Homo sapiens: one gene and its partner. Each later gene encodes a partner of the first gene's protein in a complex. Each region holds a gene or a part of one and is shown on either strand. Other genes may lie near its edges. The genes, in order: IL1A and S100A13. A codon is read from its position in the direction of its gene.

What was found.
Region 2: the proteins of IL1A (region 1) and S100A13 are in contact, whole or in part, in an NMR structure (PDB 2L5X), measured with the Homo sapiens proteins. Residues at the interface, in NP_000566.3 of Homo sapiens: Asn148 (codon at 7,618), Gln150 (codon at 7,624), Tyr151 (codon at 7,627), Thr194 (codon at 9,140), Ala195 (codon at 9,143), Gln196 (codon at 9,146), Asp197 (codon at 9,149), Leu203 (codon at 9,167), Leu204 (codon at 9,170), Lys205 (codon at 9,173), Glu206 (codon at 11,895), Met207 (codon at 11,898), Gly216 (codon at 11,925), Ser217 (codon at 11,928), Glu218 (codon at 11,931), Thr219 (codon at 11,934), Asn220 (codon at 11,937), His239 (codon at 11,994); in NP_001019381.1 of Homo sapiens: Met1, Arg25, Gln26, Glu27, Gly28, Arg29, Lys30, Asp31, Ser34, Asp68, Ser69, Glu70, Lys72, Phe73.

What each region holds. Positions count from the first base shown.
Region 1 is NC_000002.12:112,770,366-112,787,161, reverse strand, and holds IL1A (interleukin-1 alpha precursor), read left to right. Parts: upstream 1-2,668; 5' UTR 2,669-2,719; intron 2,720-2,761; exon of another isoform or gene 2,762-2,847; intron 2,848-3,383; 5' UTR 3,384-3,391; coding exon 3,392-3,438; intron 3,439-4,397; coding exon 4,398-4,446; intron 4,447-5,335; coding exon 5,336-5,558; intron 5,559-7,495; coding exon 7,496-7,666; intron 7,667-9,050; coding exon 9,051-9,175; intron 9,176-11,894; coding exon 11,895-12,095; 3' UTR 12,096-13,237; downstream 13,238-16,796. UniProt on the Homo sapiens protein: Cytokine constitutively present intracellularly in nearly all resting non-hematopoietic cells that plays an important role in inflammation and bridges the innate and adaptive immune systems.
Region 2 is NC_000001.11:153,621,654-153,632,750, reverse strand, and holds the start of S100A13 (protein S100-A13), read left to right. Parts: upstream 1-5,245; 5' UTR 5,246-5,268; exon of another isoform or gene 5,269-6,057; intron 6,058-6,217; 5' UTR 6,218-6,278; coding exon 6,279-6,431; intron 6,432-11,097. Other genes in the region: S100A1 (protein S100-A1), read right to left, coding at 910-1,053, 2,089-2,229. UniProt on the Homo sapiens protein: Plays a role in the export of proteins that lack a signal peptide and are secreted by an alternative pathway. Binds two calcium ions per subunit. Binds one copper ion. Binding of one copper ion does not interfere with calcium binding.

The DNA of each region.
Region 1 (16,796 bases):
TCAAGCACTGGTTTCATCAGTCTTGTGATCTTGGGTTGGTCACTTAACCTCTTCAAGGGTCCTCAGCTGTGAAAGAGGATAGTATCAGCTAATTCTTGTAGGTGCAGTGAGGAGGCAGTGAGATAGTGCAGGTAAACTATAAAACAATTGTCACATGAAACGCATCACAGTGATTCTTTGGACCCACAAGCTCCAATCTTATAAAACATATCCAGTCACCCACCAACATAGATCATCTCACCTTGCATATCTGATTTTGTGGATCATGGGGAAAAACTGCTGATTCCTAGCAAAACCCATGGCATAGGATAAGTGCACAATAATTTTTTTTTCCTAAATGATTTAGATGACAGTGACTCATTAAGGGTTTCCTGAGGCCTCCTCAGAGTCGAGAGGTGGGTGCCTGAAGCCACCCAAAGTCCCTGTCACAGGATGGCTCCCAACGCACACACCACAGGCCTGCCCAGTATGTTCCACTATCTACCCAGTAGAGCCCTGCCCAGTACGTTCCACTGTCCCTTCCCTAGAAGAGGTGACTGTTGTTCACAGTCCCAGAAAAGCGGGCTCCCCAAAACAATGCAAGGACCCACCTCTCTCTGAACCTCACCCACCCTAGTTTTCCTTTAAAAATCAATTTACAAGAAGATCATGTGAAGGAAAAGGTTGGGTGATATTCTAACCCAAGTTAGCTGTTTCTCAACCAAGTTCTCTTTGAAAAATTCAACAACCACCTTTGGGGAATTATTTACAACAGAGGAGTGAGGATGGGACCAGGATAGGTATTGCCTATGTTGGTGGAACCAGGGTTTTTTTCCTGGATTACCAAAGAGATGGTATGCATTGCTCCCAGAAGCTAAATATCTTCAGGCTTTCAATGGTGGCCTTCACCTGAAAATGTTATCCCTGTTGAAGCTTTCAAGCCAGTATTTTCATAAGAACTATATTTTCTTTGGTGAACTGAGGCATTATAATGATGACTATACAGGTTCTTGAGTGACTGAAGCCATCATTAGCATTGTCATTATTTTTGTTTAGTTGCATCTCCATAGCAGCTCACATTCACAATGTGCTTTGCAATTGTTCCTTAGCAATAGCCCTCACAAGATTCTCAGGAGGAGAGGGTTAATCAGGATTAACATTTCTGTGTTGCCTAAAGAGGAACCAAGGTAAGCAGAAATGTAGCCAGTTGGCTGGCATCACTGTTGCTTCAGGATTCATCCTTAGACACCCAAGCTTCTACCCTAGTCTGGTGCTACACTTACATTGCTTACATCCAAGTGTGGTTATTTCTGTGGCTCCTGTTATAACTATTATAGCACCAGGTCTATGACCAGGAGAATTAGACTGGCATTAAATCAGAATAAGAGATTTTGCACCTGCAATAGACCTTATGACACCTAACCAACCCCATTATTTACAATTAAACAGGAACAGAGGGAATACTTTATCCAACTCACACAAGCTGCTTTCCTCCCAGATCCATGCTTTTTTGCGTTTATTATTTTTTAGAGATGGGGGCTTCACTATGTTGCCCACACTGGACTAAAACTCTGGGCCTCAAGTGATTGTCCTGCCTCAGCCTCCTGAATAGCTGGGACTACAGGGGCATGCCATCACACCTAGTTCATTTCCTCTATTTAAAATATACATGGCTTAAACTCCAACTGGGAACCCAAAACATTCATTTGCTAAGAGTCTGGTGTTCTACCACCTGAACTAGGCTGGCCACAGGAATTATAAAAGCTGAGAAATTCTTTAATAATAGTAACCAGGCAACACCATTGAAGGCTCATATGTAAAAATCCATGCCTTCCTTTCTCCCAATCTCCATTCCCAAACTTAGCCACTGGCTTCTGGCTGAGGCCTTACGCATACCTCCCGGGGCTTGCACACACCTTCTTCTACAGAAGACACACCTTGGGCATATCCTACAGAAGACCAGGCTTCTCTCTGGTCCTTGGTAGAGGGCTACTTTACTGTAACAGGGCCAGGGTGGAGAGTTCTCTCCTGAAGCTCCATCCCCTCTATAGGAAATGTGTTGACAATATTCAGAAGAGTAAGAGGATCAAGACTTCTTTGTGCTCAAATACCACTGTTCTCTTCTCTACCCTGCCCTAACCAGGAGCTTGTCACCCCAAACTCTGAGGTGATTTATGCCTTAATCAAGCAAACTTCCCTCTTCAGAAAAGATGGCTCATTTTCCCTCAAAAGTTGCCAGGAGCTGCCAAGTATTCTGCCAATTCACCCTGGAGCACAATCAACAAATTCAGCCAGAACACAACTACAGCTACTATTAGAACTATTATTATTAATAAATTCCTCTCCAAATCTAGCCCCTTGACTTCGGATTTCACGATTTCTCCCTTCCTCCTAGAAACTTGATAAGTTTCCCGCGCTTCCCTTTTTCTAAGACTACATGTTTGTCATCTTATAAAGCAAAGGGGTGAATAAATGAACCAAATCAATAACTTCTGGAATATCTGCAAACAACAATAATATCAGCTATGCCATCTTTCACTATTTTAGCCAGTATCGAGTTGAATGAACATAGAAAAATACAAAACTGAATTCTTCCCTGTAAATTCCCCGTTTTGACGACGCACTTGTAGCCACGTAGCCACGCCTACTTAAGACAATTACAAAAGGCGAAGAAGACTGACTCAGGCTTAAGCTGCCAGCCAGAGAGGGAGTCATTTCATTGGCGTTTGAGTCAGCAAAGGTATTGTCCTCACATCTCTGGCTATTAAAGTATTTTCTGTTGTTGTTTTTCTCTTTGGCTGTTTTCTCTCACATTGCCTTCTCTAAAGCTACAGCCTCTCCTTTCTTTTCTTGTCCCTCCCTGGTTTGGTATGTGACCTAGAATTACAGTCAGATTTCAGAAAATGATTCTCTCATTTTGCTGATAAGGACTGATTCGTTATACTGAGGGACAGCAGAACTAGTTTCCTATGAGGGCATGGGTGAATACAACTGAGGCTTCTCATGGGAGGGAATCTCTACTATCCAAAATTATTAGGAGAAAATTGAAAATTTCCAACTCTGTCTCTCTCTTACCTCTGTGTAAGGCAAATACCTTATTCTTGTGGTGTTTTTGTAACCTCTTCAAACTTTCATTGATTGAATGCCTGTTCTGGCAATACATTAGGTTGGGCACATAAGGAATACCAACATAAATAAAACATTCTAAAAGAAGTTTACGATCTAATAAAGGAGACAGGTACATAGCAAACTAATTCAAAGGAGCTAGAAGATGGAGAAAATGCTGAATGTGGACTAAGTCATTCAACAAAGTTTTCAGGAAGCACAAAGAGGAGGGGCTCCCCTCACAGATATCTGGATTAGAGGCTGGCTGAGCTGATGGTGGCTGGTGTTCTCTGTTGCAGAAGTCAAGATGGCCAAAGTTCCAGACATGTTTGAAGACCTGAAGAACTGTTACAGGTAAGGAATAAGATTTATCTCTTGTGATTTAATGAGGGTTTCAAGGCTCACCAGAATCCAGCTAGGCATAACAGTGGCCAGCATGGGGGCAGGCCGGCAGAGGTTGTAGAGATGTGTACTAGTCCTGAAGTCAGAGCAGGTTCAGAGAAGACCCAGAAAAACTAAGCATTCAGCATGTTAAACTGAGATTACATTGGCAGGGAGACCGCCATTTTAGAAAAATTATTTTTGAGGTCTGCTGAGCCCTACATGAATATCAGCATCAACTTAGACACAGCCTCTGTTGAGATCACATGCCCTGATATAAGAATGGGTTTTACTGGTCCATTCTCAGGAAAACTTGATCTCATTCAGGAACAGGAAATGGCTCCACAGCAAGCTGGGCATGTGAACTCACATATGCAGGCAAATCTCACTCAGATGTAGAAGAAAGGTAAATGAACACAAAGATAAAATTACGGAACATATTAAACTAACATGATGTTTCCATTATCTGTAGTAAATACTAACACAAACTAGGCTGTCAAAATTTTGCCTGGATATTTTACTAAGTATAAATTATGAAATCTGTTTTAGTGAATACATGAAAGTAATGTGTAACATATAATCTATTTGGTTAAAATAAAAAGGAAGTGCTTCAAAACCTTTCTTTTCTCTAAAGGAGCTTAACATTCTTCCCTGAACTTCAATTAAAGCTCTTCAATTTGTTAGCCAAGTCCAATTTTTACAGATAAAGCACAGGTAAAGCTCAAAGCCTGTCTTGATGACTACTAATTCCAGATTAGTAAGATATGAATTACTCTACCTATGTGTATGTGTAGAAGTCCTTAAATTTCAAAGATGACAGTAATGGCCATGTGTATGTGTGTGACCCACAACTATCATGGTCATTAAAGTACATTGGCCAGAGACCACACTGAAATAACAACAATTACATTCTCATCATCTTATTTTGACAGTGAAAATGAAGAAGACAGTTCCTCCATTGATCATCTGTCTCTGAATCAGGTAAGCAAATGACTGTAATTCTCATGGGACTGCTATTCTTACACAGTGGTTTCTTCATCCAAAGAGAACAGCAATGACTTGAATCTTCAATACTTTTGTTTTACCCTCACTAGAGGTCCAGAGACCTGTCTTTCATTATAAGTGAGACCAGCTGCCTCTCTAAACTAATAGTTGATGTGCATTGGCTTCTCCCAGAACAGAGCAGAACCATCCCAAATCCCTGAGAACTGGAGTCTCCTGGGGCAGGCTTCATCAGGATGTTAGTTATGCCATCCTGAGAAAGGCCCCGCAGGCCGCTTCACCAGGTGTCTGTCTCCTAACGTGATGTGTTGTGGTTGTCTTCTCTGACACCAGCATCAGAGGTTAGAGAAAGTCTCCAAACATGAAGCTGAGAGAGAGGAAGCAAGCCAGTTGAAAGTGAGAAGTCTACAGCCACTCATCAATCTGTGTTATTGTGTTTGGAGACCACAAATAGACACTATAAGTACTGCCTAGTATGTCTTCAGTACTGGCTTTAAAAGCTGTCCCCAAAGGAGTATTTCTAAAATATTTTGAGCATTGTTAAGCAGATTTTTAACCTCCTGAGAGGGAACTAATTGGAAAGCTACCACTCACTACAATCATTGTTAACCTATTTAGTTACAACATCTCATTTTTGAGCATGCAAATAAATGAAAAAGTCTTCCTAAAAAAATCATCTTTTTATCCTGGAAGGAGGAAGGAAGGTGAGACAAAAGGGAGAGAGGGAGGGAAGCCTAATGAAACACCAGTTACCTAAGACCAGAATGGAGATCCTCCTCACTACCTCTGTTGAATACAGCACCTACTGAAAGAACTTTCATTCCCTGACCATGAACAGCCTCTCAGCTTCTGTTTTCCTTCCTCACAGAAATCCTTCTATCATGTAAGCTATGGCCCACTCCATGAAGGCTGCATGGATCAATCTGTGTCTCTGAGTATCTCTGAAACCTCTAAAACATCCAAGCTTACCTTCAAGGAGAGCATGGTGGTAGTAGCAACCAACGGGAAGGTTCTGAAGAAGAGACGGTTGAGTTTAAGCCAATCCATCACTGATGATGACCTGGAGGCCATCGCCAATGACTCAGAGGAAGGTAAGGGGTCAAGCACAATAATATCTTTCTTTTACAGTTTTAAGCAAGTAGGGACAGTAGAATTTAGGGGAAAATTAAACGTGGAGTCAGAATAACAAGAAGACAACCAAGCATTAGTCTGGTAACTATACAGAGGAAAATTAATTTTTATCCTTCTCCAGGAGGGAGAAATGAGCAGTGGCCTGAATCGAGAATACTTGCTCACAGCCATTATTTCTTAGCCATATTGTAAAGGTCGTGTGACTTTTAGCCTTTCAGGAGAAAGCAGTAATAAGACCACTTACGAGCTATGTTCCTCTCATACTAACTATGCCTCCTTGGTCATGTTACATAATCTTTTCGTGATTCAGTTTCCTCTACTGTAAAATGGAGATAATCAGAATCCCCCACTCATTGGACTGCTGTAAAGATTAAGAGTCTCAGGCTTTACAGACTGAGCTAGCTGGGCCCTCCTGACTGTTATAAAGATTAAATGAGTCAACATCCCCTAACTTCTGGACTAGAATAATGTCTGGTACAAAGTAAGCACCCAATAAATGTTAGCTATTACTATCATTATTATTATTATTTTATTTTATTTTTTTGAGATGGAGTCTGGCTCTGTCACCCAGGCTGGAGTGCAGTGGCGCAATCTCGGCTCACTGCAAGCTCTGCCTCCTGGGTTCATGCCATTCTCCTGCCTCAGCCTCCTGAGTAGCTGGGAATACAGGCACCCGCCACTGTTCCCGGCTAATTTTTTGTATTTTTAGTAGAGACGGAGTTTCACCGTGGTCTCCATCTCCTCGTGATCCACCCACCTTGGCCTCCCAAAGTGCCGGGATTACAGGCGTGAGCCACCGCGCCCGGCCTATGATTATTATTATTATTACTACTACTACTACCTATATGAATACTACCAGCAATACTAATTTATTAATGACTGGATTATGTCTAAACCTCACAAGAATCCTACCTTCTCATTTTACATAAAAGGAAACTAAGCTCATTGAGATAGGTAAACTGCCCAATGGCATACATCTGTAAGTGGGAGAGCCTCAAATCTAATTCAGTTCTACCTGAGTAAAAAAATCATGGTTTCTCCTCCATCCCTTTACTGTACAAGCCTCCACATGAACTATAAACCCAATATTCCTGTTTTTAAGATAATACCTAAGCAATAACGCATGTTCACCTAGAAGGTTTTAAAATGTAACAAAATATAAGAAAATAAAAATCACTCATATCGTCAGTGAGAGTTTACTACTGCCAGCACTATGGTATGTTTCCTTAAAATCTTTGCTATACACATACCTACATGTGAACAAATATGTCTAACATCAAGACCACACTATTTACAACTTTATATCCAGCTTTTCTTACTTAGCAATGTATTGAGGACATTTTAGAGTGCCCGTTTTTCACCATTATAAGCAATGCAACAATGAACATCTGTATAAATAAATATTCATTTCTCTCACCCTTTATTTCCTTAGAATATATTCCTAGAAGTAGAATTTCCCAGAGCCATGAGGATTTGTGACGCTATTGATATGTGCCACTTTGCACTCTCTGTGACATATATAATTATTTTTAATGCATTCTTTTTTTCTCAGAGTGCATTCATTTGAAAACATAGACGGGAAATACTGGTAGTCTTCCTTGTCAGTTAGAAACACCCAAACAATGAAAAATGAAAAAGTTGCACAAATAGTCTCTAAAAACAATGAAACTATTGCCTGAGGAATTGAAGTTTAAAAAGAAGCACATAAGCAACAACAAGGATAATCCTAGAAAACCAGTTCTGCTGACTGGGTGATTTCACTTCTCTTTGCTTCCTCATCTGGATTGGAATATTCCTAATATCCCCTCCAGAACTATTTTCCCTGTTTGTACTAGACTGTGTATATCATCTGTGTTTGTACATAGACATTAATCTGCACTTGTGATCATGGTTTTAGAAATCATCAAGCCTAGGTCAGCACCTTTTAGCTTCCTGAGCAATGTGAAATACAACTTTATGAGGATCATCAAATACGAATTCATCCTGAATGACGCCCTCAATCAAAGTATAATTCGAGCCAATGATCAGTACCTCACGGCTGCTGCATTACATAATCTGGATGAAGCAGGTACATTAAAATGGCACCAGACATTTCTGTCATCCTCCCCTCCTTTCATTTACTTATTTATTTATTTCAATCTTTCTGCTTGCAAAAAACATACCTCTTCAGAGTTCTGGGTTGCACAATTCTTCCAGAATAGCTTGAAGCACAGCACCCCCATAAAAATCCCAAGCCAGGGCAGAAGGTTCAACTAAATCTGGAAGTTCCACAAGAGAGAAGTTTCCTATCTTTGAGAGTAAAGGGTTGTGCACAAAGCTAGCTGATGTACTACCTCTTTGGTTCTTTCAGACATTCTTACCCTCAATTTTAAAACTGAGGAAACTGTCAGACATATTAAATGATTTACTCAGATTTACCCAGAAGCCAATGAAGAACAATCACTCTCCTTTAAAAAGTCTGTTGATCAAACTCACAAGTAACACCAAACTAGGAAGATCTTTATTATCTCTGATAACATATTTGTGAGGCAAAACCTCCAATAAGCTACAAATATGGCTTAAAGGATGAAGTTTAGTGTCCAAAAACTTTTATCACACACATCCAATTTTCATGGCGGACATGTTTTAGTTTCAACAGTATACATATTTTCAAAGGTCCAGAGAGGCAATTTTGCAATAAACAAGCAAGACTTTTTCTGATTGGATGCACTTCAGCTAACATGCTTTCAACTCTACATTTACAAATTATTTTGTGTTCTATTTTTCTACTTAATATTATTTCTGCAATTTTCCCAATATTGACATCGTGTATGTATTTGCCATTTTTAATATCACTAGACAATTCAATCAGGTTGCTACGTTGGTCCCTTGGGTTTACTCTAAATAGCTTGATTGCAAATATCTTTGTATATATTATTGTTTTTTCTCCTATCTTGTAATTTCTTTGAGCACATCCCAAAGAGGAATGCCTAGATCAATGGGCACAAATAATTTGACAGCTCTTATTAAACATTATTCTGTAAGTAAAAACTGAACTACTTTTCAGTATCACTAGCAACATATGAGTGTATCAGCTTCCTAAACCCCTCCATGTTAGGTCATTATGAACTTATGATCTAACAAATTACAGGGTCTTATCCCACTAATGAAATTATAAGAGATTCAACACTTATTCAGCCCCGAAGGATTCATTCAACGTAGAAAATTCTAAGAACATTAACCAAGTATTTACCTGCCTAGTGAGTGTGGAAGACATTGTGAAGGACACAAAGATGTATAGAATTCCATTCCTGACTTCCAGGTATTTACACCATAGGTGGGGACCTAACTACACACACACACACACACACACACACACACACACACACACCATGCACACACAATCTACATCAACACTTGATTTTATACAAATACAATGAATTTACTTTCTTTTTGGTTCTTCTCTTCACCAGTGAAATTTGACATGGGTGCTTATAAGTCATCAAAGGATGATGCTAAAATTACCGTGATTCTAAGAATCTCAAAAACTCAATTGTATGTGACTGCCCAAGATGAAGACCAACCAGTGCTGCTGAAGGTCAGTTGTCCTTTGTCTCCAACTTACCTTCATTTACATCTCATATGTTTGTAAATAAGCCCAATAGGCAGACACCTCTAACAAGGTGACACTGTCCTCTTTCCTTCCTACCACAGCCCCCACCTGCCCACCCCACTCCCATTGATTCCAGAGGCGTGCCTAGGCAGGCTCTATGAGAAAATATAACAGAGAGTAAGAGGAAAATTACCTTCTTTCTTTTTCCTTTCCCTGCCTGACCTTATTCACCTCCCATCCCAGAGCATCCATTTATTCCATTGATCTTTACTGACATCTATTATCTGACCTACACAATACTAGACATTAGGACAATGTGGCCTGCCTCCAAGAAACTCAAATAAGCCAACTGAGATCAGAGAGGATTAATCACCTGCCAATGGGCACAAAGCAACAAGCTGGGAGCCAAGTCCCAAAATGGGGCCTGCTGCTTCCAGTTCCCCTCTCTCTGCATTGATGTCAGCATTATCCTTCGTCCCAGTCCTGTCTCCACTACCACTTTCCCCCTCAAACACACACACACACAACAGCCTTAGATGTTTTCTCCACTGATAAGTAGGTGACTCAATTTGTAAGTATATAATCCAAGACCTTCTATTCCCAAGTAGAATTTATGTGCCTGCCTGTGCTTTTCTACCTGGATCAAGTGATGTCTACAGAGTAGGGCAGTAGCTTCATTCATGAACTCATTCAACAAGCATTATTCACTGAGAGCCTTCTATTTTTCAGGCATAGTGCCAACAGCAGTGTGGACAGTGGTGCATCAAAGCCTCTAGTCTCATAGAACTTAGTCTTCTGGAGGATATGGAAAACAGACAACCCAAACAACCAACAAAAGAGCAAGATGCTGCAAAAAAAAAAAAAAATGAATAGGGTGCTAAGATAGAGAAAAGTGGGAGAGTGCTATTTAGACAAAGTGGTAAAAACAAAGCCCCTTGTGAGATGAGAGCTGCCGACAGGAGGGGGCGGGTCATGGTTGTGGGTTTTTGGGTAGGACATTCAGAGGAGGGGGCGGGTCGTGGTTGTGGGTTTTTGGGTAGGACATTCAGAGGAGGGGGCGGGTCGTGGTTGTGGGTTTTTGGGTAGGACATTCAGAGGAGGGGGCGGGTCGTGGTTGTGGGTTTTTGGGTAGGACATTCAGAGGAGGGGGCGGGTCGTGGTTGTGGGTTTTTGGGTAGGACATTCAGAGGAGGGGGCGGGTCGTGGTTGTGGGTTTTTGGGTAGGACATTCAGAGGAGGGGGCGGGTCGTGGTTGTGGGTTTTTGGGTAGGACATTCAGAGGAGGGGGCGGGTCGTGGTTGTGGGTTTTTGGGTAGGACATTCAGAGGAGGGGGCGGGTCGTGGTTGTGGGTTTTTGGGTAGGACATTCAGAGGAGGGGGCGGGTCGTGGTTGTGGGTTTTTGGGTAGGACATTCAGAGGAGGGGGCGGGTCGTGGTTGTGGGTTTTTGGGTAGGACATTCAGAGGAGGGGGCGGGTCGTGGTTGTGGGTTTTTGGGTAGGACATTCAGAGGAGGGGGCGGGTCATGGTTGTGGGTTTTTGGGACATTCAGAGGAGTCTGAATGCACCCAGGCCTACAACTTCAAGATGGTAAAGGACAGCTCCAAGGATCAGAAGAAGCATTCTTGGAACTGGGGCATTTTGAGAAGGAGGAAAAATATGCAGAGACTAGTGCTTGCAGAGCTTGCATTTGGATTTCATTTGAGGTACAATGAAAACCCATTAATGGGTTTCACACAGTGCAATGGCCTGACCTCACTTATATTTCCTAAAATAGAAAACAGATCAGAAGGAAGGCAATAGAGAAGCAGAAAGTCCAATGAGGAGGTTTCACAGCAGTCATGGGGGTGGGGTAAGGAAAAGAAGTGGAAAGAAACAGACAGAATTGGGTTATATTTTGGAGATAGAACCAACAGAAGGAAGAGGAGAAACAACATTTACTGAGAAGGGAAAAAGTAGGAGAGGAATAGGTTTGGGAAATAAATCCTGCTGACATTGGAAACCCCAAGGAAGCCTCAAAAGTATATTTACTTGCTTTAGATTTAAAAGAATAGGAAAGAAGCATCTCAACTTGGAATTTGAAATCTATTTTTCCATAAAAGTATTGTTAAATTCTACTCATACTCACAAGAAAAGTACATTCTAAAGAGTATATTGAAAGAGTTTACTGATATACTTAGGAATTTTGTGTGTATGTGTGTGTGTGTATGTGTGTGCGTGTGTTTAACCTTCAATTGTTGACTTAAATACTGAGATAAATGTCATCTAAATGCTAAATTGATTTCCAAAGGTATGATTTGTTCACTTGGAGATCAAAATGTTTAGGGGGCTTAGAATCACTGTAGTGCTCAGATTTGATGCAAAATGTCTTAGGCCTATGTTGAAGGCAGGACAGAAACAATGTTTCCCTCCTACCTGCCTGGATACAGTAAGATACTAGTGTCACTGACAATCTTCATAACTAATTTAGATCTCTCTCCAATCAACTAAGGAAATCAACTCTTATTAATAGACTGGGCCACACATCTACTAGGCATGTAATAAATGCTTGCTGAATGAACAAATGAATGAAGAGCCTATAGCATCATGTTACAGCCATAGTCCTAAAGTGCTGTTTCTCATGAAGGCCAAATGCTAAGGGATTGAGCTTCAGTCCTTTTTCTACCATCTTGTTCTCTAACAGAATTCTCTTCTTTTCTTCATAGGAGATGCCTGAGATACCCAAAACCATCACAGGTAGTGAGACCAACCTCCTCTTCTTCTGGGAAACTCACGGCACTAAGAACTATTTCACATCAGTTGCCCATCCAAACTTGTTTATTGCCACAAAGCAAGACTACTGGGTGTGCTTGGCAGGGGGGCCACCCTCTATCACTGACTTTCAGATACTGGAAAACCAGGCGTAGGTCTGGAGTCTCACTTGTCTCACTTGTGCAGTGTTGACAGTTCATATGTACCATGTACATGAAGAAGCTAAATCCTTTACTGTTAGTCATTTGCTGAGCATGTACTGAGCCTTGTAATTCTAAATGAATGTTTACACTCTTTGTAAGAGTGGAACCAACACTAACATATAATGTTGTTATTTAAAGAACACCCTATATTTTGCATAGTACCAATCATTTTAATTATTATTCTTCATAACAATTTTAGGAGGACCAGAGCTACTGACTATGGCTACCAAAAAGACTCTACCCATATTACAGATGGGCAAATTAAGGCATAAGAAAACTAAGAAATATGCACAATAGCAGTTGAAACAAGAAGCCACAGACCTAGGATTTCATGATTTCATTTCAACTGTTTGCCTTCTACTTTTAAGTTGCTGATGAACTCTTAATCAAATAGCATAAGTTTCTGGGACCTCAGTTTTATCATTTTCAAAATGGAGGGAATAATACCTAAGCCTTCCTGCCGCAACAGTTTTTTATGCTAATCAGGGAGGTCATTTTGGTAAAATACTTCTTGAAGCCGAGCCTCAAGATGAAGGCAAAGCACGAAATGTTATTTTTTAATTATTATTTATATATGTATTTATAAATATATTTAAGATAATTATAATATACTATATTTATGGGAACCCCTTCATCCTCTGAGTGTGACCAGGCATCCTCCACAATAGCAGACAGTGTTTTCTGGGATAAGTAAGTTTGATTTCATTAATACAGGGCATTTTGGTCCAAGTTGTGCTTATCCCATAGCCAGGAAACTCTGCATTCTAGTACTTGGGAGACCTGTAATCATATAATAAATGTACATTAATTACCTTGAGCCAGTAATTGGTCCGATCTTTGACTCTTTTGCCATTAAACTTACCTGGGCATTCTTGTTTCAATTCCACCTGCAATCAAGTCCTACAAGCTAAAATTAGATGAACTCAACTTTGACAACCATGAGACCACTGTTATCAAAACTTTCTTTTCTGGAATGTAATCAATGTTTCTTCTAGGTTCTAAAAATTGTGATCAGACCATAATGTTACATTATTATCAACAATAGTGATTGATAGAGTGTTATCAGTCATAACTAAATAAAGCTTGCAACAAAATTCTCTGACACATAGTTATTCATTGCCTTAATCATTATTTTACTGCATGGTAATTAGGGACAAATGGTAAATGTTTACATAAATAATTGTATTTAGTGTTACTTTATAAAATCAAACCAAGATTTTATATTTTTTTCTCCTCTTTGTTAGCTGCCAGTATGCATAAATGGCATTAAGAATGATAATATTTCCGGGTTCACTTAAAGCTCACATTACACATACACAAAACATGTGTTCCCATCTTTATACAAACTCACACATACAGAGCTACATTAAAAACAACTAATAGGCCAGGCACGGTGGCTCAGACCTGTAATCCCAGCACTTTGGGAGGCCAAGGTGGGAAGATCACTTGAGGTCAGGAGTTCAAGACCAGCCTAGGCAACATAGTGAGATCTCATCTCTACAAAAAAAAATGAAAAATTAAAAAATGAGCTGGACATGGTAGTACACACCTGTAGTCCCAGCTACTCGGGAGGCTTGAGGTGGGAGGATCACTTGAGCCTGGGAGATGGAGGCTGCAGTGAGCCATAATCACACCATTGCACCCCAACCTGGGCAACAGAGTGAGACCCAGTCTCAAAAGATAAATTTTTAAAAATGTTAAAAAATATATAAAAGAGAATTTTAAAAGAACAACTAATAGATCAAAGCATGGATGCAAGATATATTTAGTTGGAAAATCAAGGTTAAAATCAAGGGATCTTGGAATTAGGTGTGGTAGATTTGGGTAAGGAGTAGTCTAAGATGACCCTGTTTCTTGGTACTGGAGACTGGATGAGTGGCAGCGTCTTAACCATATTTTTGGTAGAAATATGGAGGTCTTCTCCATTCCAGGATGAATGATGAGTAAAATTTTAGGCATGTAATTTGAGCTACTAGAAGGACACTCAATTGCAGATGTACAATGGGGAGATGATAACCTATCTGGAACTCAGAAAAATAACTGTATATAGATATGAAAGACATCAGTAGGTATGTAGTAGATAAAATCCTAAAAGTGATGTCAAAGGGAGAAGAGAAGTATATGGTGAACACTGTTGTTTGTCCATGCAATTGCCATCTCTTCTTCTTCCTTACTGACAGAACCCTGATTTCACTGAGAAGTCAACATGCCCTTCCCCAATTGATGAATCCAATTGGTTTAAGATTATGTTCATTCTATTCTTACATGACTAAGTCACGTTGACTTAATCCTATCAAATGAGATGTCGATCTGGAAACAACTTCTGGAAAAGATTTTCTACCTTGATAAAATAAAGAGCCATATAGATGGTCCTTTATCTTCCTTCTTCCTTGAATGAGATATGTTCTATGAGGAAGTGAAGCTTAGAACTGTGGTCAGCAACTTGCAACGACTGGGAAGTCAGAGCCACACAATGAAGAATGCAGAGTGGAAGGAGAAAAAGAGCCAGCATCTCTGACAACATTGTTACACCGAGAACCTACCTCCAGATTTTAAGAAAACAAGAAATGCTACTGTTATTAAGCCATTTCACTGGGTTTGCTATGACTTGCAGTCAAATCTAGCTTAACTGATACAGAGCACCACAGAGAACTGGTCTCTCATTTGTCTCATCCTGTTCTTTCTAGCAGCCACGACTTTCCTAGGGTTTCCTTAGCCCAAGTCTGGCTAGAGCAAGACTAAGTAAGACTTGATTCCTTAATGTCCTTTTGTTTTAAGAAATATTAAAGAATTATTTTTATATTAATATATTTTAAGAAATAAGGAAATACAAAACACTGAGCAAGCAACACAAATTCAAGAAATCTTAAAAAGTATAATAGCTGCTCAGTCTCTGATTAACAGTGAAATATGGAATCATTGTAGAAATGGCCTTGGAGCGTTATTCTCCCAGGCCAGCTATCCTTATGGTCTGCCCCACCTCCCTCATTGCCTAAACAGTAAGAGAGTCACCATGGTGAGACTCAACAGTCTTAGCACAGAACTTGTTACAGTCTATTTCTTTTCTTACAGTCCTATATATCAAGTTCCAAATCAATGAGAGTAAAGCCAAATCCCTGCCTTTAAACCCAAGGGACAGAAGCAAAAAGCCAAAAGATATTTCCCTAACCTTCCTCCCACTGAGTAGACTCCTCTGACATTTAAAAACCCCTACGCTTGAAATTTGAGGGGTGATGGAATTGTTGAGATGGTAATAATTATTGTGGTGGATATAAAATATGCTCGTGTATCTATATCTCTGAATGACTGAATGATTTATAAGTTTAATGGTTATATACATTTCTGACTTTTAAAAATGAATGTATGAGTATATGACAATATAATAATTTACAAAAAAAATTTATTATCTATAGCACCTCATTGAACTATACATAAAATAGATTAAATTATACCTCAGTAACAAAGGATTTTTTTTAATTTACAAGGAAAAAACTCTTTATTCCATTTATCGCGTTGTGTATCCAGAGTGGTCTTTTTTTTTTTTTTTTTTGTACCCTCTCTCAACCCTAGGCATGAGATGTTCATTTATCCTAAAATGCTCTATAGGGTAATTTACCTTTCTTGTGGATACATTGTTTGCATTTCCCTGTCATTGGCTCTCACTGGCCAAGAACACCTTTGCTCCTTCTTCTCTAAAACTTATTCCTCACCAATTTTTCTTTTTATCAGAGTGGCTGACAAAGGGTGTTATGCAACCTTATGAGCTCTGCAGGGTAAACTGAGGTCTGGCTCAAAAGTATACATCCCTGGGCCTCACCTCTGGAGATTCAGTCAGTTTGGGTAGACCTTGAGCATCTTAATTTTTTTAAGCTCCAAAAGTAACTCTCATGTTTATCACTGGTTAAGAACCACTGCATGAAGAGAGTCCCAGATTAAGGATGGTTTTATTATAGTGTTAATAATGGCTTCCTTTTGGGCAAGTCAATCCAGGGTTAGAAAAGATGAGAACACACAACTTCCACCTATCCAGTAGAGGCCTTCTCACAGCCACAGGGACACCGGCAGGCCTCATTTGGAAATAAGGTACTCAACAGCACAAGTACCCCCATTTTATATACTCACTTATACTTGCGTAGAAGCTGAGGGGCCTGCCAAGCAGGTGCTTGCCTTTGGTGTCACTCTTCCAAAAGGTCTGGAGTGCTTTGCCCAATTGAGAGAGGCCTATGGAATAAGAAAAACATGAGTGGATGGTCCCTGTCTTATCTTCTCAACTGTCCACACTCTAAAAAACGACTTTGGCTCCTAGCATGACAAGAGCCTTGATTTTCAGAGGAACACTCCCTTCTCATCTCCACCAAGAAGTAGAGCTAATTTCCTTCCACACAGCTCCTATTCACTATTTCGTAGATGGTGAAGTCATTTCTTTGTCATGTAAGGAGAAATGCTGTTACTATTTTTTAAAACAGAAAGGAGAGGGTTTATGGAGATTACAGACAGGTATTCTTGATACGAATGTATTGCATCAATTTAGAAGATTTTTCAACAGATGTTTTGTGCATATGTAGAATAAAATGCTGCAATCTCAAGGTCTCAGGCTGGGATCACTAAGAACAAGTCATGCTGCAGACCTCATTACCACTTTTGATGGGATTA
Region 2 (11,097 bases), on another chromosome or scaffold:
GGGCGTGTGCGTGTGTGTATGTGTTTGTGTGTGTCTGTGTGTAAGTAATGGCCCAGCATCCTTACCCATGTGAGGGTAAGGATCGTGGTTATTTTGCTTAATGCTGGAGCCTCAGTTCCTACAGTGTTTACACATAGTACCACTTAAGTAAATGTTCGTTGATTGAAAGAAGATTCTTTCGGCCTAGCGCGGTGGCTCATGCCTGTAATCTCAGCACTTTGGGAGGCCGAGGCGGGGGGATCACGAGGTCAGGAGATCGAGACCATCCTGGCCAACATGGTGAAACCCCGTCTGTACTAAAAATACAAAAAATTAGCCGGGCGTGGTGGCAGGCGCCTGTAGTCCCAGCTGCTCGGGAGGCTGAGGCAGGTGAATCGCTTGAACCTGGGAGGCGGAGGTTGCAGTGAGCCGAGATCGTGCCACTGCCCTCCAGCCTGGGTGACAGAGCCAGACTGTGTCTCCAAAAAAAAAAAAAAAAAAAAAAGATTATTTCTTCCTCTGGTTTTATAGTTGAGAAGCTGATGTCTCCTCGACTTCCAACTGGAACCTTGAACCCCCACATTTCTGGACCTTGAGCATTCCTCAAGTAGGAAGATGTAATGCACCTTGACCTCTTTCTAAATAAGACACTTCCCCAAATAAGGGGAGTTGAGAGTGAACAGTCTTCACGTCTCCACCCACTTCCAGATCCCAGAGGAGACAGACATCGGATGGCTGGTGAGAGAGAAGCCTTTAATGAAAGATGAGTTGCAGGCTTGGACCGCTACTCTTGCGCCCTTGGTGGGGGTGGGGGTGGGGTGGGCAAGGGTGGGGTTATGGAGAGGGATAAGTGGGGTGAGGTGGAAGCAGGGGGAAGAGGCAGGTCTGGGAGGGTGGAGAGGAAGGGCGCTGCCCAATGTGGCTGTCTGCTCAACTGTTCTCCCAGAAGAAATTGTTACAGGCCACTGTGAGAGCAGCCACAAGCACCACATACTCCTGGAAGTCCACCTCCCCGTCTCCATTCTCGTCTAGCTCCTTCATCACCTTGTCCACAGCATCCACATCCTTCTGGGCCTGTGGTGGGAGGAGAGGAAGAGGGAGGTGTATAGGGAAGGGTACAGCACTGAGTCAGAGGCAAGGGGGTGGTTGAGGAGCAGGAGGCAAAGATGAGCGAGAGGAACTGCATTGAATTATGGGACTCTTCTAGGCCTCCTCAAAGGTCTTGAGGGCTTCTGTTGCCTACAGCATAAGCTCTTTCACCTGGCAGAATGAATAATAATGACACCAGTTACCGTATGTTCAGTGCCTATAATAAAGCAAGCACTACACTAGGAGCTTTACAAGCACTGTCTAATTTAATTCTAATACAAATAATGTGAGGTATGTTTCATTATTTCCATTCTAGAGAAGAAACAAATTGGTAATCGGTGGTTAAATAAATATGCCCAAAGTCCCACAGCTAGAAAGTAGCAGGGCTGGAATTTGAACCCAGTCCAATAAAACCTCAAAACCGGTGCACTTTCTACCGTATCCTGAGGCTTCTTTACTTTGGGGCCCTGGTTAGCCTTAGCAGCCTAGTTTTCTACATCCTTCATGCCAGTTGAATGAAACTACTGACATGCTCCACATTCTTCTTTCTCCCATGCTTTTGTTCATTCAGTTACCTCCTCCTAAAATGTCTGCATTTACCCAGATAATCTTCCAATGGAAATCCATGGTTCAAGTGCCACCTCTTCAGGAAAGCCATCTGACTTCAATCAGGTTAATAATCTCTCATAACCCTTTCTGGTACATCTGTTAAGGCTCTGTGTATTTCCTGGAGTTCATGGTTTACTTTTAAGTGTCAATCTTTCCCTTCTAAGTCTGTGTGTCTTATTATTGATGAATCTACACAGGGCCTAACACTTAACAGGTGATCAATAAACCAGGGCATTTTGACTTGACCCAGGAGGAGTAGGGGAGCCTGGAAAAACCCAGGAGAGAAGCCTGGGAAAGGAAAGAAAGAGGCTAGGCTGAGCTGGAGGTGGGGTGGGGAGATAGCAAGGGGGTGTCCACCCCATTCCCCCAACCTTCACCCACTCCACTCCCACTCCACCACTCTATGCTCACATCCAGGAAGCCAGAGAGCTCCGTCTGCAGCAGCTCTTTCAGCTCCTTCTTGCTCAGCTTGTACTTGTCCCCCTCTTTGCCCGAGTGGGCGTGGAACACGTTGATGAGGGTCTCCATCGCCGTCTCCAGCTCAGAGCCCATTGCAGCAGTGCACCTACCCACCCCCATCATGGAAGTGAGCTGAGGACCAGGCCCGGAGTACCTGGGGTCTAGGTGAGGGGAACCCTCAGGACTGGCCCTGGCTGACAGCTCAAATAGCTGTGGGATTAGAGCCCTACTGCAATTGATCTTTCCCTGAGATTTTACAATGTGAGGGAAACCCCAAGAGACCTAAGTGCAGGCCTGTTCTCTGTGTCCCTCAGTCTGTACCCCAGCCAGAGGGAATCAGGGTTGGGGCATGGAGAGAGAGCAGTTGGAGCTGGGCTGGCTCCAGAGGCCTGTGGTAGATGTCTGCAGTGGCTGCCCAGGCAGGGATTGAGGAGGGTGGGGCAGGCAGGGGTGGTCACAGGACTGGGCCATGCTTCCTCTGGCTCTATTTTTACCCTGGACCTTGCCTGTCTAGCATAGCCAAGCTCTGCTGTTGAGGGTGGTGGGCTGGGGTGTCCACTACAGCCTTCCTTCTGCTGCCCACCCCTAGCAAGGAGTCAGTCTGGTACCCTCGGTCAGCCTGGTAGAGGGGATGGCAGCCCCAGTGGGTGGCGTACGCCTTCTGGGGGAGGGAGGTCTCACTGACTCTGAGTTTCCTGTCAGCAGCTGGGGGCCCCTTTTGGTCCTTCAACTCTGTTCTCTCCTGAACATGTCATTTTGGCTTCTTTGGGATATGCTCCCATTGCCTCTGCAAAATTATCCCTTCCATCTGGTGGGTGGCAGAAGGGGAGAGAGGAATGTCTGAGCCTTTTCCTTGGAGCCAGAGTTCCCAGGGAGTGGGAGAGGAGACCTGCAGGCGTTGTCCCTGCAACTGCTCACTCCTGGTTGATTCGGGGATAGTGGGAGCAAGGGGAATGGGGCTGCTGTGTGTTGGGGGAGAGAAAGGGCTGAAAGCATGCGGTCCTTTGAGTTCAAGGGGCTGGGAGAGAGTAGGAGAAGAAAGGAGAAAGGAGTGGTCTGTTGAGAGAGAAGACTGCCAAGCCGGGGGGCCTCTTTCCCTTGGCCCTGGGACAGTCTGGCCTTCCACAACCCCAGAGGGGGCAGCTCAGGTGTCTCGGATCAGATGTCCCCATCCTTCCCCAGGCCTAGGGGGCTGGACAATGGCCCCTGATCGAATGACATCCCAGTTCTTCAATGGGGCCCTTGTGAGTGTCATCTGAACTCCGGACCTGAGAAGCAGTTGTCACAGAGACATGGGGGAGATGGAACCCAAGCTGTGGCTGATGAGGGGATAAGGGGTGCTTGAGGGAGGGGTGCTGGTAGCTTGATTACCTGCTCCATGCCAGAGGGGCAGCTGGAGGTCACCTGGAGCCCTAAAGCAGCCTGGGATTTTACGTGGTGGCAGTTCTGAGAGGACTTGGGGGCAGGGGAGATGGGGAAACAAAGAGGTAAGAATGGGGGGAAAGAGGAGTCAAGAGGTCTGGGCCAAAAATGGGAGGAGGAGAAAGGGGAGGTCCTGTGGAGGTCGAGTTGGGAAGGGGCACAGCACCCTACATCTCTGCTTCCCCATATCATGGGAGCTTTGCCCTGCCACCCCCAGACTCCCCCGGGACCTGAGCTCTTGGCAAGGCAGGGTGGGGGTGGCAGAGACTAAGGCTGGCAGGAGAGGTGGGGGCAGAAACAGCTGTTGTATCTGCTCTCTTCTTACCCCACAGGAGGCGAGGCAGGGGAGGGCTGGGACCCTTCCCAACACCTGGGAGACAGAGGGGGCCTTGGCAGGGACTTGAGGGCTCCCTGTGGGAGGGCCAGGCGGTCAGGAAGCTCATGGTGGGTTCCCCACTGGCTTCCTCCTTTGCTGAGCTGCCAGCTCTCTCTCCGACCTTCAGTTCATTTGTCTCTCATCACCACCTTCCAAACCCTGTCTCCCCCAAATCCCAAACTGCCCTCACCCTGACTGACTCCTCCCAGATCCTCAGTGCTCCACAGTGCTATGGTCCCCAGCCTCTTGGAGCCCTTCTGAAGACCCCTCTCCCTGAAGCTGGCAGGCCAGGGACTAGCCCAGTGGGGCAGGGTACTCACGGTTGGCCTGGGCCTGAGGTGGGAGCAGGTTCTGGACAGATGGCCAAGGTTGCAAATGTGGCTGCTGGAGCTGTGTGTGGAGACCTGTCTTCAACAGTCCCTCCCCCGCTGACCCCCCCACCGACTCCACCCCTTCACAGACGAACACCCTGTGGGGCAAGGGGCCAGGAGCAGACAGAGGCGCCCTCTGTCTCCTGGGCTGGAACAGGCGGCCCTTGTCTCTTTCCCAGCCTTGCTTGCCCCGTTCCTTTCTCTCCAGGCAGCAGTGGATGGTGCAGGGGAAAGAGGTGGGAAGGAGGTCCTGGGAGGGACACTGGATGTCTTACCCCAAGCTGGGCCTTGCAGTACCTGTGGCTGGCTGTGCTGGTTGAGCCCGGTAAGGGGGGAATTCTGCTGAGGGGGTCTTAGTCTGTGGCTCCTCCATGGGGCCTCACTGAGAGGACCCTCAGTGAGAAACTTAGTCTTGGGAGTCTGAGAACCCACAGAGGGATTTCAATCCAGGACTCTTCTCTGGGGGTCTCAACCTGGATCCCCCTCTGTGTGTGGGGCCTCAGCCTGGGGTTCTCTGAGGGATCTTGGTCTGTAGCATCCTTTGTGGGATCTCATTCCAAGGGGCCTCTGTGTGTGTCTCAGATTGGGCCTCTCAGTGTTGAGCTCCCTTGATTGGTTGCCTCCCTCTTCCCCCCTCAGCATACACACTCCTGATTAGACATGGGTATGGTGGCAGCAGCCCCCAGTATTGAGAGGACTAGGACCCTGGGACCCCTGCCGAACGAGATCTGTCCAGGCAGCTCCTCTCCCTGACCAAGTGGGGGCGCTCGTGTGGCTGGCAGGGAGCCCGGGTCCAGACCTGAGGGCTCAGGGCAAGCGGCCTGATTGGGCTGTCTCTGGTCTTCAGAATCGACCACGGAAATTTGACACCTCCGGGCTTGGAAGCAGCTCTCTCCTCCTTCCCCGCTGCTTATAAACCTCAGCCCTGAGGCTCCAGCTCACTCTACCCCATCTCCTTGCCGGGTGAGTCTCATGGCTGACCCTGGAGGGAGGCTGGAGATCATTTTTTCTTCCTGGGCTCCCAGGTCCCTCCCCCAGAGCCAGCTCAGACAGGAATTCAGGAAGGAGCTTTGGATGATCGAGCAACAGCGCGTGCAGGAGTGTGTGACGGGGTGGACAGAAAAGAGAATGCCTCTTCCAGCCCCACCCGCCGCACCCCAGGGGGTTGTGAGTGCCTGTACTAAACCCGTCCTGGAGCAGGGAGTCAGAGACGCCCCGTTCCAGGACCCTTGTCACCGGGAGACAGGAGCGGGGAGGATCTGTGGGGTCCTGGGTTCAGCACTCTGCCCTGCTGCCGCTGAGGAGAGGTAAGGGTGGAGCGGGGCAGAGAAAATGGGTCTGTTCAGACGGAGCCAGCTCTGACCACAGGGGACATTTGCCAGACCCTGTGCTTCTCTGCTGGGAGGAGCGGTTAGAGTGTGTGTGGGCGGATGCGAGTGGCCGGAGACCAGGGCCCAACATAAACAAGCTTTGGAGACAAACAACCTTATGACCTGTGAGTCTGGGTGAGACAAGAAGGGATTCTTGAGACAGACACGCCACAGAGGGGCCACCAGACTTGAAGGACTCCAAGAAGGACCTTCAACTGAAGACCTCCTCTCAAGTAGAGGGGTCTCCAGATCGAGGGATCACCACAGAGGGGTCCCTAAGCCACAGACATTTAAAAAGGATCCCGGATTGTGAGACCTACAGAAGAGGGGGTTTCTGGAGCTGAATCTCCTGCCCCCACCAAAACTGAGATGCCGTTGCCTGGTCTGCTGCCCCAAGCTCAACCCCTGTCCTCTCCCTCTTTCCCCATATGCCCCCTCCAGGCTGAGACTGATGTGATAACACCAAGGCAGGGACCTTCTGAACCATTCCTGCATCTTGGGGCTCCCTGACTCTCCCTCTCTGCTCCTTCTCTCTTCCACAGGTCAGCCCTGACAAAGGTCAGCTAGCCCCTTGAGGACATCAGCTTTGGCCTCAGGGTCCTAATGGCAGCAGAACCACTGACAGAGCTAGAGGAGTCCATTGAGACCGTGGTCACCACCTTCTTCACCTTTGCAAGGCAGGAGGGCCGGAAGGATAGCCTCAGCGTCAACGAGTTCAAAGAGCTGGTTACCCAGCAGTTGCCCCATCTGCTCAAGGTAGGCAGAAGTCTGGGACTGAGATTTTGTGAGATGATGATTATGGGACACTGTGTTTAGGACGTGATGGTGCCGAGTACGGTGAGGTGACCACAAGAAAGGGTGTGGGTGGCTGCATGTGTCAATGGTTGCAGGTTTTCTTTTGTTTTTTCGAGACAAAGTCTCACTCTGTTGCCCAGGCCGGAGTGCAGTGGTGTGATCTTGGCTCACTGCAACCTCCATCTCCGGGGTTCAAGTGATTCTCCTGCCTCAGCCTCCTGAGTAGCTGGGATTACAGGTGTGTGCCACCACGCCGAGCCTATTTCTGTATTTTTAGTAGAGACAGGGTTTCACCAGGTTGGCCAGGCTGGTCTCGAACTCCTGACCTCAGGTGATCCACCCGCCTCGGCCTCCCAAAGTGCTGTGGTTACAGGCGCAAGCCACTGCGCCTGACCCGGTTGTGAGTTTTCTTGCCTGGTGTGTACATGTGTGTGTTTGTGTGTCCATGCATATAATTAGGTAAGCAAAGATACTATGTGCCAGTGGGAGTATGGTCTTGTGTCAGAAGATGCTGTTGGGTTCTTGTGTATGCTCTGTGCCTTTCTGGTCTAATTTCCCCAAGACAGGACTGGACCCAGAGCTGGCTTCCAGGAGATTCACAGACTGTCAGAGCTGGAAGGAGGCCAAGAGAAAACACAGTCCGCATTCCTCACTTCACATATATGGAAACTGAGGCCTAGCAGTGGAAAGGGGCTTATCAAAAATGAAAACACAGCCAAATTCATGGAGTCATAGACCTCAGTGTAGGGGGTCTGTGGGTGCATCTGTGAAGACTCCCTACCCGCTATGGGCATCCCCTTACTAGGGTGTAAGAGTCATTCCTTCTCTCGCACTCACAGGCTGGAGTCAGGTCTTAAATTTCATCGACTCTGGCCTCGAAGAGGCCTGGTCATTCTGGCTGTTGACAGTTTGTTTTACATCCTTTCTGAAAATCCACAGGCACGTTGAAGTGTGTGAATATGGACTCCTTGAACACAGTGAGTCTCTGAAACTCATGGTCTTTCATCTGCAAAATCCCCTACAACTTCCAACTTCTCAGACTTTTTTTTGAGACAGGGTTTCTCACTCTGTTGCCCAGGCCACTGTGCGATCACAGCTCATTGCATCCTTGACCTTCCGGGCTCAGGCAATCCTCCTGCCCCAGCCTCACAAGTAGCTGGGACCACAGGCGCATGCCACACTGCCTGGCTAATTTTTTCTTTTTTTGTGACAGAGTCTCACTCTGTCACCGAGGCTGGAGTGCAATGGTGCGATCTTGGCTCACTGCAACCTCTGCCTCCTGGGTTCAAGTGGTTCTCTTACCTCAGCCTCATGAGTAGCTGGGATTACAGGCAACCGCCACCATGCCTGGATAATTTTTGTATTTTTAGTAGAGACGGGGTTTCACTATGTTGGCCAGGCTGGTTTCGAACTCCTGATCTCAGGTGATCCACCTGCCTCGGCCTCTCAAAGTGCTGGAATTACAGGCGTGAGCCACCGCGCCTGGCCTAATTTTTAAGTTACTTGTAGAGATGTGGTCTCTCTGTGTTTCCCAAGCTGGTCTCAAACTCTAGGCCTCAAGTGATCCTCCTGCATTGGCCTTCCAAAGTGTTGGGATTACAGTCATGAGCCACTGTGCCCAGCCAGACGTTTCCTTTTTCATCTTTTTTACTGGAAACTTCAGGTTCTCTCCTGAAGGGACAGCATTCCTTATATCCTTGTCAAGCAGTGATTGTGGTTTTTTTTTTTTTTTTCCTAAATTCAACTTCCTCTGGGCCTGGAAATGGAGGAAGTGACCTCTCTGCTTTCCATTATCTCTAGATTTTAGTTTCTTCTTCTTTCTAAGACTTCCCAGCGCCTTGGAAGATCATCTGCCACCTGCCATTCTTCTTATTGCGCTCCTTACAGCTCTTCAGCTCCTGGCTCACTGTTTTCTTCTCATCACTGCTTCTGTTGTTATTCTCAGTGGCTTCAGCATCCGCACAGACAATTCATCCAACATCTGGGCCTTTCAATTTTCTCAACTCCTCATTTCCAAAAAGATTTGTCTTCTTACATCTCAGCATCCCACTCCTCTGTTCATGCTTTAGACTGTGTCATTAACAAAATAACGCACAACTTCCAAAATCTTGATTTCAAGTTTCCCTTTATCTGCTGACCTCCTCCTGTCATTCCAGTTCTGTTCCCCTCTCTAGCTTCTCCACTTCAGCACTTCCCTGACTCCTCAGGTACCTTCAGTCTCTCGACCCTCTCACTTTTGCATCTTCCATCAACATCCCTCGGGTCCTCATTGCCCTTCCTCCTCACCTCAGGTTCTAAGGCTTCTAATTGTAATCACTGCCTTAACCCCGTTGATTCTGTCTCTCTCTGTTCTCAACCCAGTTAATCCACCATTTCACCTATAGTAACTTGCCAGTTAAATCCACTGTTCTGCACCTGCACTTGGATAGCTGAATCTGGCTGGAGAAAAATGCATAGCTTTGTTGACTTGTCTCACTTTAAATCTATAACCACAGACCCCAAAAGGGACCCTTGGCAATACCTGGCGGTTCTGTGTTTCCCTGGTTGATTCATTTACCAGTTCTTTCAGATAATTATTTCACAATTTGTCTTCTCTCCTCAAAGCTCAGTACATCTTTCCACGTTCTCCCTTTTCCTGAGAAGTTTACTCACTGAGAAGTTCAGGACTTCGAGACCAGCCTGGCCAACATAGTGAAACCCCATCTCTACTAAAAATATATTTAAAAAATTAGCTGGGCATGGTTGTGTGCGCCTGTAATCCCAGCTACTTGGGAGGCTGAAGCAGGAAAATTGCTTGAACCCAGGAGGCAGAGGTTGCAGGGAGCTGAGATTGCACCACTGCACTCCAGCCTGGGCAACAGAGGGAGACTGTCTCAAAGGAAAAAAAAAAAAAAGGAAACGAAAATAGGAGCAATCAGGAAACTTGTATGTGCTCCCTCCCCGAAATCAGCAGTCTTCTGTTATGCAAATGATACGTCACTGCCCCTAAGGCCAACCCTTCACTGGTGCCCTGGATCCCATCCCCTCTCACCCACTGCACTCCAGTCTGGGTGACCGACAGAGCGAGACTCCGTCTCAAAAAAAAAGACTTTCCTCTTGAAATTACTCCTCTCTTTCTTGTGTCCTCAAATTTTCCTTCTCCACTGTATCGTTCTTACCAGCTTACAACTGATACCTCTTTTTTTTTTTTTGAGACAGAGTCTCACTTTGTTGCCCAGGCTAGAGTGCAATGGCGTGATTACAGTTCACTGCAGCCTCTACCTCCTACGCTCAAGTGATCCTTCCACCTCAGCCTTCTGAGTAGCTGGGACTACAGGCATGTGCCACCATGTCTGGCTAATTTTTTAATTTTTTTGTAGAGACAGGGCCTCTGTACGTGTGCGTGCATGTAATTAGGTAAGCAAAGATACTGTGTGCCAGTGGGAGTATGGGCTTGTATCAGATGATGCTGTTGGGTTCTTGTGTATGTTCTGTGCTTTTCTGGTCTAATTTCCCCAAGACAGGACTGGACCCAGAGCTGGCTTCCAGGAGATTCACAGACCATCACAGCTGGAAGGAGGCCAAGAGAAAACACAGTCCCCATTCCTCACTTCACATATATGGAAACTGAGGCCTAATTTTTAAATGTTTTTGTAGAGGCAGGGCCTCATTATATTGCCCATGCTGGTCTTGAACTCCTAGGCTTAAGTGATCCTCCTGCCCTGGCCTCCCAAAGTGTTGGGATTACAGGCATGAGCCACTATGCCCAGCCCAATCCTTTATTGATGGAAATTTTTCTTATGTCCATTTCTTCCTTCTTGCAAATATCTGTTTGTATACCTACATACTGGTGGAAAAATAACAACATAAGGTAAATGTTTGGCAGTAGAAATATTAGGTTAAGTGGCATGTTCATTTTTAATTTGTTTTTGAGAAAGGATCTTGCTCTTTCACCCAGGCTGGAGTGCAGTGGCATGATCTCGGGTCACTGCAACCTCTGCCTCCCAGGTTCAAGCGATTTTCCTGGCTCAGCCTCCCTGAGTAGCTGGGACTACAGGCTTGTGCCACCACGCCTGGCTAATTTTTGTATTTTTAGTAGAGACGAGGTTTCGCCATGTTGGCCAGGCTGGTCTCGCACTCCTGACTTCAGATGATCTGCCTGCCTCGGCCTCCCAAAGTGCTGGGATTACAGGGGTGAGCCACCGAGACCAGCTTTCATTTTTAATTTTTGTGATTACCAATTTGCCTCCTAAAAAAGTTGTACCAGTTTATATGGCTACCCACACTTCATGCGATGCCTGTGTACTTGTCCAAACTGGGTGTTATTGAGCTTTTACTTTTTGCTAATCTATGATGTGAAAATGATATCTTTTTCTGATTTACGCTTATATAATTCTGAGTGAAATGGAACTTCAATTTTTTTTTTTTTTAATTTTTTTGAGACGAGGTCTCACTCTGTCACCCAGGCTGGGCTGGAGTGCAGTGGTGTGATCTCGGCTCACTGCAACCTCCACCTCTTGGGTTCGAGCGATTCTTGAACCGTGCATCACCATGCCTGGCTGATTTTTGCATTTTTAGTAGAGATGGGGTTTCTTTCTTTCTTTCTTTCTTTTTTTTTTTGAGCAGCAGCAAGATTTATTGCAAAGAG